Linked DNA regions of Homo sapiens. The protein of the gene in region 3 interacts with the protein of the main gene of each other region in a pairwise test. Each region holds a gene or a part of one and is shown on either strand. Other genes may lie near its edges. The genes, in order: DZIP3, NPHP1 and ARHGAP32.

What was found.
Region 1: the proteins of ARHGAP32 (region 3) and DZIP3 interact in binary tests that used the Homo sapiens proteins (3 or more experiments, as listed by UniProt).
Region 2: the proteins of ARHGAP32 (region 3) and NPHP1 interact in a two-hybrid assay, tested with the Homo sapiens proteins (one study listed by BioGRID).

The regions. Positions count from the first base shown.
Region 1 is NC_000003.12:108,690,668-108,694,420, reverse strand, and holds part of DZIP3 (E3 ubiquitin-protein ligase DZIP3), read right to left. Parts: intron 3,635-3,753; coding exon 3,524-3,634; 3' UTR 3,518-3,523; intron 1,062-3,517; 3' UTR 1-1,061. UniProt on the Homo sapiens protein: E3 Ubiquitin ligase proteins mediate ubiquitination and subsequent proteasomal degradation of target proteins.
Region 2 is NC_000002.12:110,198,375-110,202,127, forward strand, and holds part of NPHP1 (nephrocystin-1), read right to left. Parts: intron 3,121-3,753; coding exon 3,047-3,120; intron 1-3,046. UniProt on the Homo sapiens protein: Together with BCAR1 it may play a role in the control of epithelial cell polarity. Involved in the organization of apical junctions in kidney cells together with NPHP4 and RPGRIP1L/NPHP8. Does not seem to be strictly required for ciliogenesis.
Region 3 is NC_000011.10:128,968,595-128,972,347, reverse strand, and holds part of ARHGAP32 (rho GTPase-activating protein 32), read left to right. Parts: intron 1-1,188; coding exon 1,189-3,441; 3' UTR 3,442-3,753. UniProt on the Homo sapiens protein: GTPase-activating protein (GAP) promoting GTP hydrolysis on RHOA, CDC42 and RAC1 small GTPases. May be involved in the differentiation of neuronal cells during the formation of neurite extensions.

The DNA.
Region 1 (3,753 bases), on a different chromosome or scaffold from region 3:
AATTGCCCAATCTCAGGTATGTCTTTATCAGCAGCATGAAAATGGACTAATACAAGGTGCTAGACAAGGTGATTAAAGGCTCTATAAATTCTAAATTGTGCAATTCTAAGACATTCTTGGCATTTTACATGTCTAGATGACTGCCATCTTTTTTTAAATATTTTTCCCTCACATGTTCCAGTCTATTCTCATTACAGAAGAATACGTTTAACATACAGTTACAGAAACAGAGGTTTTAAATAAATATTTAAAAGTAACTTCAAAATATATTTGCACTGAAATATGGAGGCAAAATTGTTTCTGAGTCAGGAAACATTTATTCTTCCCCATAAATTTAAATGGAGGTGAAACTGTGAATATGAAGCAAAGAACATTTATCTCACAAGGTAACTCTGAATTCTTTTAATTCTGAAACCAGAGACATGTACAACACTTACAGCATTCACACAACACTATTTTCAAAATAGGTTTTTGACCCCTAAAAATGAAAATTCTTAGTGACAAGCTTTAGATATGAAACTTAGCCCAGTGGGTATTCACTTTGTCACAAAAAGCAACTACAGACAAATAGTTTTTCCCTCTCCCCGACACAAAAACTGAAATTACAGACTTTTAAAGCAGAAAAAATTTTCTCCAAAATGCAAATGATTAAGGTCCAAGGAACAAATGAACAGAAGATCTCAATTATTCAATTGAGCGAGTGATTTAGTTTGCATATTAACTCCTTTTCTTACTACTTCCTGATATCTGATTCTGGCAATATTTATCTTGTATCTACTGGGCAAGACACTGGGAACACAAAGAAATTTTAGACAAGGTCCAGTGGTATGCTGGTAAAGGTTTAACAACTAGCTCTTAAGGGAAAGGTAGGTCTTCACTTATAGCATTTCTATGGTGTAAATACTCCAATTGCCGCAGATTTCAAGCTAGCAACAATTTGACAACTGTCTCACAAAATTCCTCAAACTAACGATTGTCACTCATAAGACATTACAAGCCAGCTCCAACACACCACCGTACAGTCTCCACCTTCAAGTAGTTCATAATCTCTTCATGGGTACCTATTTAAGGGGATATAAAAGAATGGGGAATATTGAGATATAATTTAAATCAATTATATTTTTTAGGTAGTTTTAAAAGTTAGAAGGAACATAAATTTCCATGGGATTTTCCTACTTCTTTTTTTTTTTGTCATGGCAAATAACCTCATATTTTATTCAAAAACAATACCCCCTCCCCAGTCATGCATTTATAATTAAAATATCCTATTTTAATACATTCTCCTTATCTCTACCTTAGTGAATTAAAAAAAAATCTCTTGACATAACTGGGTAATTGTAACAATTCTCTTGTAATTGCTTTGACTGTGGAAAACAGGCATATCAGATTGCAGTCCCTCACATGACAGGCACACCAGCAAGATAACAAAAGACAGATTGACAAGAGAACAGCATAAAATTTCATTTAATATAAGTTTTATCATATTAAATAATATATTAGGTATTTATTAAAACTTTTTATATAATATATATTAAAACTTATTTTTATATAATAAAATTTATTACATACAAATAAAACTTATTATATAAAAATTTGTTTTAAATGATTGGACAAAAAGGTATGGTCTAATGGTAATAAACTGGGGGAACTTGGCAAACTTGTTAGTAAACTTGGAAAAGTAAACTATCTGGACCCATCGCAAACCTGTTGATTCAGAATCCCTGGGATGGGACCAAACAATCTAGCTTAAAAGTCCTCCAGGTGATTCTGATGTAAACCATTTGAGAAATACTGGCACATGGGAAACTTTTACTGTTTATCTAAAGGACAGGCAGACATGGAAATGCAGGGAATATGTCAAGTAAGAAAAATAAGCAGTGACGCATGTGCCCTGACTTTAAATGTATGTAGAACAACAACAGTTGTTCAACAGTCTCAAATTGAATGAGACTATTCAACTGGATCTATTCAGAAACATATGAACTGTCCCTTTCTGTTTCATTTCCGTGGGCTTATGTTAGTGTAGAAGCCTGAGTACATTTGCTGTGGGCAGACATGTAAATTCTTTAGCCCATGGGAAGCTGTAGAGAAGAAAGTAGGATTGAGTACTGCCTCCTGATCATCTCCCAGGACTGGATTACCAATAGCCAGTCTGTCTATGCCCATGTTCTGTCATGTGCCAAGCAGGGGCAGAAAAAAAATATATATATTTCTATCAATTCACATTATAATTATAATCAATTCACATTATAATATAAATATAAATATAAAGCCAAAATGTTCTTGGCCTTTGTAGGGGAGAAAAAACTTTTTCCTCTACCAACTTTTGTTATTTCAATAGGAGCCTGCAAATTAAACTGAAAAAAAGACATTAGTAAGAGAAAAGAGCTTATTTATGCGGACAATGTTCGCACATGTGGGAGTGTTCCGTGAAGAGTAACTGAAAAGTGTGGTTAGAATTTGGGGCTTATATACCTAACTTAGTAGGGGAAAGGAATGGGGGAGAAAGACATCTATGGGAAGGACAAATTGGTTCGTTTAGGAAAGACAAATGGGTTTTCAGGAGAACAAACAGAAGATAAGAAAGTTTGTGATAATACTTATGCAGGTATGAGTGGTCTTTCTGTCTTCTTCATGGCCATGAAACTGCACCTGAGACGGGTGATGAGATTTAAGACATGCTACTCCAAAATATGGCATCTTGATGTTTGAGAAAACAGCAGAAGCAGGGAAGTCTCACTCACTTTCCTCCTGCACTTCTTCCCAGAAACAAGTCATAAAACCTAGGAAGGATTCTCTGACCTTCCCTGGAAGCAGGTCATAAGACCCTCATTCTAGAGGTACCCACTGTATACCTGGAGGAAAAGGACATCCTTATCTCTGGAGACACAGGGACACAGAGAAGAATCTGAACAAATGACTTGCTATGTTTCTTCCAGTTTCTTACCATTAGATCATACCCTTTTATCCCCTCATAGCTCTCCGTGAATATCCACTTCTTTTTTTTTTTTTACTTTCTTTTTTTTTTCTTTTATTATTATTATACTTTAAGTTTTAGGGTACATGTGCACAATGTGCAGGTTAGTTACATGTGTATTCATGTGCCATGCTGGTGTGCTGCACCCATTCCTACTTCTTTACTATTTCCCTTTTCCTTAAATTTATTTCAGGAAATTAAAGTGTAGAATACTTGAGGGGAGAGTAAAGGATGAGTGAAATAAGAATTTAAAAAGACAAGAAAAAACATCCTAAGAAATATGCTAACAGTTATGTTTCCACTACAAGAAAAAAACCTACTAAGAGCATATATAGTGTAACTATTAAAATTCCATCTGCTTCAAGCTCTTTCAGTTCATTTCACAAGTCCTGAAGATTTGTCCTGACTTCTTTGGCTGCTGCTTTGATAAAATTAGCTGGCTTCTTTAGCACTATATTGAAGAGCACATAGTTTTACACCACTCAAACAAGCAGCTCATAATAAAAGAAAACTGAGCTTCCTTTGCATAGACACCCCGACCTTGTATCAGATCTTGGGCAACTGCCGGCTGGGGTGACCAGGGAATTCTTCTGGTAGCAAAACGTGGAGTCTGCACGTTGGACATGTCCCCTGTTGCATCAACCATGGTCTAATGCACTAAGGAGCAAAAAGATTTATGTCAGTCTCTCAGATGTAGCCTAGCAGAGGCAGTTGTCACTCTATGCATCAGGGTTACCAACCAACATGTCTTCTGGTGGATCTTTAAAGCCTTACGC
Region 2 (3,753 bases), on a different chromosome or scaffold from region 3:
ATTAAATCATATGCATACATCTAAGCTTTGAGGAGGGAAATCAATGTTAAAGCAATCTAAGGTCTTTATATTAGTCAAGGGAAGATTAATGATACTGATTACGTTTAGATTTAGTTGGGGTTCTTTCTTTTAAAAGTCTATTTACAGAAAACCTGAGCCAGTTAGCTCCCTTTTCCCCTCTCTGCTCTCCCTCCTTACCAGGGGATTCTTCCCTAAAAACAAAAAAACAAACAAAAACAATTAACAAACGACCTGAAGAGAATCATGACTGCTAAAGAAGTTTCCCATACACCAGGGTTAGAGCCGGCCCTATTCTGGCACTGGGGGATCCTCAGACTAAAAGCTACTTCCGAGCCTCTGATAAGCCCTATCAACATACAAAATTTCATTCTTATTCAGGGGATGGTACTAGCAGGAAGGACCCCTCTCTATCTAACAGTAGAAAAGCCCATGAGAGCTCTCTGGAATAATCAACCTAGTCCCTCATTGTTCAATAAAAATAGATAAGCCAGACCTAATAAAGAAAACCGGCAACGTGAAGATAAAATTTAAGAATAACCAAATATAAATTAATTAATTAACTAATTAAAAGGAATCTGAGCCCAGAGAAAGCAAAGACAATTCAGAGAACAGAAGAGAACTTAAGGAGAAAAAAAAAGCCTCCTAGTCATGGAAGTAGTAAGAAGGCAATCAATATGAAAACAGGAACATGATGCTATGAAAAAAGAACAATTCGAGAACAAGAGAAAACACTTGTAAATTAACAACATGACTGATGATGGCCAGGCACGGTGGCTCACGTAATCCCAGCACTTTGGGAGGCCATGATGGGTGGATCACCTGAAGTCGGGAGTTTGAGAGCAGCCTGGCCAACATGGTGAAACTCCGTCTCTACTAAAAATACAAAAAATTAGCCGAGTGTGATGGCGTGAGCCTGTAATCCCAGCTACTCAGAAGGCTAAGGCAGGAGAATCGCTTGAACCCAGGAGGCAGAGGTTGCAGTGAGCCAAGATCATGACAGAGTGAGACTCCATCTTAAAAAAAAAAAAACCAATATGACTGCTGAAATAAAACAATATGGCTGTTGAAATAGGTAATAAAGAAAAGTGTTAAAGTCAAGAGAATTGCTAGCATGGTAGCTCGTGGCGGGGGAGGGGGGCATCCCTTGAGCCTGGGAGGCAGAAGGTGCAGTGAGCCATGATTGTGCCACTTCATTACAGCCTGAACGACAGAGTGAGACCCCCCACATCCCCCCAAAAAAACATCTCCCATACAAACAAAGAAACAGAAACTATTAACAGGAAGTTATGGGATATAGAGGATCAGTCCAGGATATCCAATACCTGACTCAAAGGTGTTTCAGGAAGAAACAGACAAATGGAATTAACGAAATAATCTTTTTGTAAAATAAAATCTCCCAGAGCTCATGAGACATGAGTTTTCAAACTGAAAAGACTCAGAGCACTGAGCAGATAAAAATGATACCTAAATGACATTTTCAGATATGCAAATGTCAAAGTGAGTTTTTAAATGACAGTAACAATCTTCTTTTCATGCACAGAGAAGACTATGGTTACTTGGGCTTAAAAATAATTATTAGGGGCCGGGCGCGGTGGCTCACGCCTATAATCCCAGCACTTTGGGAGGCCAAAGCAGGGGGCATGAGGTCAGGAGATTGAGACCATCCTGGCTAGCACGGTGAAACCCCATCTCTACTAAAAATACAAAAAATTAGCCAGGCATGGTGGCGGGCACCTGTAATCCCAGCTACTCGGGAGGCTGAGGCAGGAGAATCGCTTGAACCTGGGAGGTGGAGCTTGCAGTGAGCCGAGATCATGCCACTGCACTCCAGCCTGGGCGACAGAGAGAGACTCTATCTCAAAAAAAATAAAACATAACAATTATTAGGCTGGGCACAGTGGCTCACACCTATAATCCCAGCACTTTGGGAGGCCAAGGCTGGGGGATCCCTTGAGGTCAGGAGTTCGAAACCAGCCTGGCCAACGTGATGAAACCCATCTCTACTCAAAATACAAAATCCAGCCAGGTGTGGTGGGGCACGACTGTAATCCCAACTACTCAAGAGCCTGAGGCAGAAGAATCGCTTGAACCTGGGAGGTGCAGGTTGCAATGAGCCGAGATTGCGCCACTGCACTCCAGCCTGGGTGACAGAGTGAGATTTAGTCTCAAAAAATAAAATAATAATAATTATGATTTTTAGTTTACTAACATAAAATTTAAAAACGTAGTTTTCCCTTGGCCTTCAAATTCAGTCTATAAATCTTACTCTGTTTTTAAATCTAGTAAAGCAAGAACAATAACCTTTGCTTTTCTTTCATTACTGTTAATTCAGCTTGAACTAAATCCCTTAATCAATCCTACTATTATAAATTAAATTCATTTGACATTTCAAAATTCATTTGTTTTGCCTTTAAGCACTCTGAATGCCTGACTTAAGTAAAACTTCTCCAAACAATTACAATTCACTTAAATTAATAGAATGAATCTCATGTTCTTTGGAATGTAATAAAATCCTTAAATATCTCAAAAACAAAGATTATCTTAATGATGTCCTAAACTTAATACAAATGTTATGAATTAATAGTCTAAATTTGATGTAGTTCATCACGTCTATTTAAACTCTCCCAAGGATTTTTTTTTAAGTAAAAACAAATACAAAACAAAAAACACCCACCTAGAAAACAGTGTTGTCTTCTCATGGGAGTTAAAGTTGACATCCCAATGAAGTACTAATTGCTTATAGACAGAGGTTTCTGACCAGGTCACAGGATCTGGGCTACATAGGCTAAGGATTTAGGGTAATCCTGCCCATGTCACCTATGTTTACATTAAGCAGTTTTTATAGTTGCTGTCACAACAGCAAGTCCGCAACCATCAGGTTTAGGTTGGTTTCTTCTACATTCAACTTACAACACTATGTGATTCTTCCATTTGATTCCAAAGGACCAATCTCTATGCCTTAAATACTATGCATTGAAATGTAAGTGCGGTTCCTGTAAAGCTTATATAATTTAGCATACTTTACCTTTGATAAATATGTTGTCTTTTATTGGGTTCTAGAGCTTCTTTCAGTTGGCTCTCAGAAAGCAAACTATCAACCTATGGAGACCATTTAAAATATCACATTATTAAATACCATATCGCCTTAGGAAAGAAAACTTCTTTTTTTATCCAATATTTTATAATGAACACTTTTAAACATACAACAAAGTTTTAAAAATTTTACAGTGAAAACCCATATACCCGCTACCTAGAAAAAACATTAACATTATACTATACTTATTTGATCTATCCGTCAACCCACCTTATGCCTTTCAAAGTAAGTTGCAGTTATCAATACATTTCTCCCTAAATAATGGACTATGGATGTCACTAACTAAAGTTCAATAGTTGATGTAAAATATGTATATAGTGAAATGCACAAATACGAGGCATACATTTGCTGAGTTTCGACAAATGCATACATCTGTGTAACCAAAATTCTTATCAAGATGTAGAAAACTACCATCACCCTAGTAAGTTCCCTCATGCCCTTGCCAGTAAATCCCCTCCTTATTCCTCCACAGACAAACCTGTTTTGATATTTTTCCAACATAAATTAGTTTTGCCTGTTCTTGAAATTTTATATAAATGGACTCATACAGTAAGCACTCTTGTGTAACCTTTCCACAAAGCATGTTTTTGAGATACTTCCATATTGTTGTGTGTACCATTAGTTCATTCCTTCTCATT
Region 3 (3,753 bases):
TTAAGCCCTGTGGCTGGTTTCCATGAGATAGTTCCCATTTGAGGTTGGAGTCTGCCATTACCTTGATGCTGGCTTTTCCCCAGGAAAGGAGTAGCTCCTAGATGACTATAGCTTAACTGTACCTGCTCCCTTTTCTTCCTAAAGTGTCTCGGTAGTTTATTCCAGTAACACAAAGAGATCAGGATCAAATGAGACAAAGTGGGCTTTACGGTTGTGGGTTGCTTTTTCTTATTTTTTTCCAACTCCATCACTGACTCATTGTGACTTTGGGCAAGTCATTTACCTACCCTCTGCCAATTATTCACAGTTACACAATGAAAATACTTCATTCTCAAAACATTCGTAAGACTGTCTGCCTTGCAGACTTTTTGGAAGTATAAGAGATTATAGTGCCTTGGGATTTTTTGTTACTTTCCTAGCATTCACCAGCAGTTTGTCCCATAGTCAGGTGCCTGTTTCAATGAGAGAATGTAGTATGCAGAATGCTAAGGTTTCTTCCTGAATTTCCTCATATTTTAAGAAAGTGCCACAGGTTGTTTTTCTTCTATATGGTCACCTTGAACTATTAATAGGACTTAAGATTTTAGACCTTAGTGGAGGATGCTGTGTTTACTGCTTCTCAAGGATAGCATGTTTTCAGTATGAGGATTATCTTTGGCCAGACTAAGGTGGAATCAAAGGTAGGAGAGAGGCAGTAGCTTCTGATTTGAATATTGCCTTTCCCTATGTTTGAAGCCCTAAAACTGCTAACTGTGTACAACTGTGAATTTCAAAAGTCTCCCCAGATGATAGAATTAACTCTTAATTTAACAAGATGTCCTTTGTGTTGAGACTGAGCTAGACTAATAGACCGGGTATGTATTTTTAAGCTCTACAGCATTACTTGACTAAACCTCTCTTTTGGTTTGTATATTAAAATTATGCCATAGGCAACCTCATCTCGCATTTAAAACCTCTCATAAATTAGAAAACTTTGAATGGTTCTCCAAAGATAATACTGGGTGTTGTACAAAATAGCAGCACAAGCCTTCTTTTCCTAGAAATGGGTACAGATTCATTGCAACCACATGGCTTGGGAAAGTTCAAGCTGCTACCCAACCAGCCTTAATTTGTGAGTTACAAATTTAATAGTACTTGATTCATAGAGGGAACAAAAAATAGACCCATAGTATTATCATCTTTCAATAGGTTCAAGGAGTAGTTCCAGTTCCAGAGAGGCCACCTGAACCTCGAGCCATGGATGACCCTGCGTCTGCCTTCATCAGTGACAGTGGTGCTGCTGCTGCTCAGTGTCCCATGGCTACAGCTGTCCAGCCAGGCCTGCCTGAGAAAGTGCGGGACGGTGCCCGGGTCCCGCTGCTGCACCTGCGCGCCGAGTCTGTCCCTGCGCATCCCTGTGGCTTTCCTGCACCACTGCCCCCCACCAGGATGATGGAGAGTAAGATGATTGCTGCCATACACTCCAGCAGTGCAGATGCCACCAGCAGTTCAAATTATCATTCCTTTGTCACTGCTTCATCCACCTCTGTGGACGATGCATTGCCTTTACCACTTCCTGTCCCACAACCTAAGCATGCTTCTCAGAAAACAGTTTACTCCTCCTTTGCTAGGCCCGATGTCACCACTGAACCCTTTGGTCCAGATAACTGTTTGCATTTCAATATGACTCCAAACTGCCAGTACCGTCCCCAGAGTGTACCTCCCCATCACAATAAATTGGAGCAGCACCAAGTGTATGGTGCCAGGTCAGAGCCACCAGCCTCCATGGGTCTTCGTTATAACACATATGTGGCCCCAGGAAGAAACGCATCTGGACACCACTCCAAGCCATGCAGCCGGGTCGAGTATGTGTCTTCTTTGAGCTCCTCTGTCAGGAATACCTGTTACCCCGAAGACATTCCACCGTACCCTACCATCCGGAGAGTGCAGTCTCTCCATGCTCCGCCGTCTTCCATGATTCGCTCTGTTCCCATTTCACGGACAGAAGTTCCCCCAGATGATGAGCCAGCCTACTGCCCAAGACCTCTGTACCAATATAAGCCATATCAGTCCTCCCAGGCCCGCTCAGATTATCATGTCACTCAGCTTCAGCCTTACTTTGAGAATGGCCGGGTCCACTACAGGTATAGCCCATATTCCAGTTCTTCTAGTTCCTATTACAGTCCAGATGGGGCCCTGTGTGATGTGGATGCCTATGGCACAGTCCAGTTGAGACCCCTTCACCGCCTTCCCAATCGAGACTTTGCTTTCTACAATCCTAGGCTGCAAGGAAAGAGCTTGTACAGTTATGCTGGTTTGGCTCCACGTCCCCGGGCCAACGTGACTGGCTATTTCTCTCCCAACGACCATAATGTAGTCAGCATGCCTCCGGCTGCTGATGTGAAGCACACCTACACCTCATGGGATCTTGAGGACATGGAAAAATACCGCATGCAGTCCATCCGGAGAGAGAGCCGTGCTCGGCAGAAGGTGAAAGGGCCTGTCATGTCCCAATATGATAACATGACCCCGGCGGTGCAGGACGACTTGGGTGGGATCTATGTCATCCATCTGCGTAGTAAATCAGATCCTGGGAAAACTGGACTTCTCTCAGTGGCAGAAGGAAAGGAGAGCCGCCATGCAGCCAAGGCCATCAGTCCCGAGGGAGAGGACCGCTTCTATAGGAGGCATCCCGAGGCAGAGATGGACAGAGCCCACCATCACGGAGGCCATGGTAGCACGCAGCCGGAGAAGCCATCCCTGCCTCAGAAGCAGAGCAGCCTGAGGAGCAGGAAGCTTCCTGACATGGGCTGCAGTCTTCCTGAGCACAGGGCACACCAAGAAGCAAGCCATAGGCAGTTCTGTGAGTCAAAGAATGGGCCCCCTTATCCCCAGGGAGCTGGCCAGTTAGATTATGGGTCCAAAGGGATTCCAGACACTTCTGAGCCAGTCAGCTACCACAACTCTGGAGTAAAATATGCTGCATCCGGGCAAGAATCTTTAAGACTGAACCACAAAGAGGTAAGGCTCTCCAAAGAGATGGAGCGACCCTGGGTTAGGCAGCCTTCTGCCCCAGAGAAACACTCCAGAGACTGCTACAAGGAGGAAGAACACCTCACTCAGTCAATCGTCCCACCCCCTAAACCAGAGAGGAGTCATAGCCTCAAACTCCATCATACCCAGAACGTGGAGAGGGACCCCAGTGTGCTGTACCAGTACCAACCACACGGCAAGCGCCAGAGCAGTGTGACTGTTGTGTCCCAGTATGATAACCTGGAAGATTACCACTCCCTGCCTCAGCACCAGCGAGGAGTCTTTGGAGGGGGCGGCATGGGGACGTATGTGCCCCCTGGCTTTCCCCATCCACAGAGCAGGACCTATGCTACAGCGTTGGGTCAAGGGGCCTTCCTGCCCGCAGAGTTGTCCTTGCAGCATCCTGAAACACAGATCCATGCAGAATGAGCCCTGCGAGCAATAGAGTTGAAGCAGCCTCTGCTGGACAGTGGACTGTTCTATTTTTTTCAATAACCAAAAAGATTAAACAAAAAATACTATAAAACCCCTGACCACATTTAAAAAATGATAATAAAAGTAAACAAATCAGCATCTTTTTCCCCTTCCCTGCTTCATTACCCCCTCTTCCATCTATAGACTTTGTCATTTTTGTCTTTAGAAAAGATCTGAAGGATGGTAAAGCCCCGTGCTGAAACCCAGTAGAGAAACCTGTCTCAGGACACACTTGCCATCTAGGGCTAGCTTGAAAGAGCCTGAGGA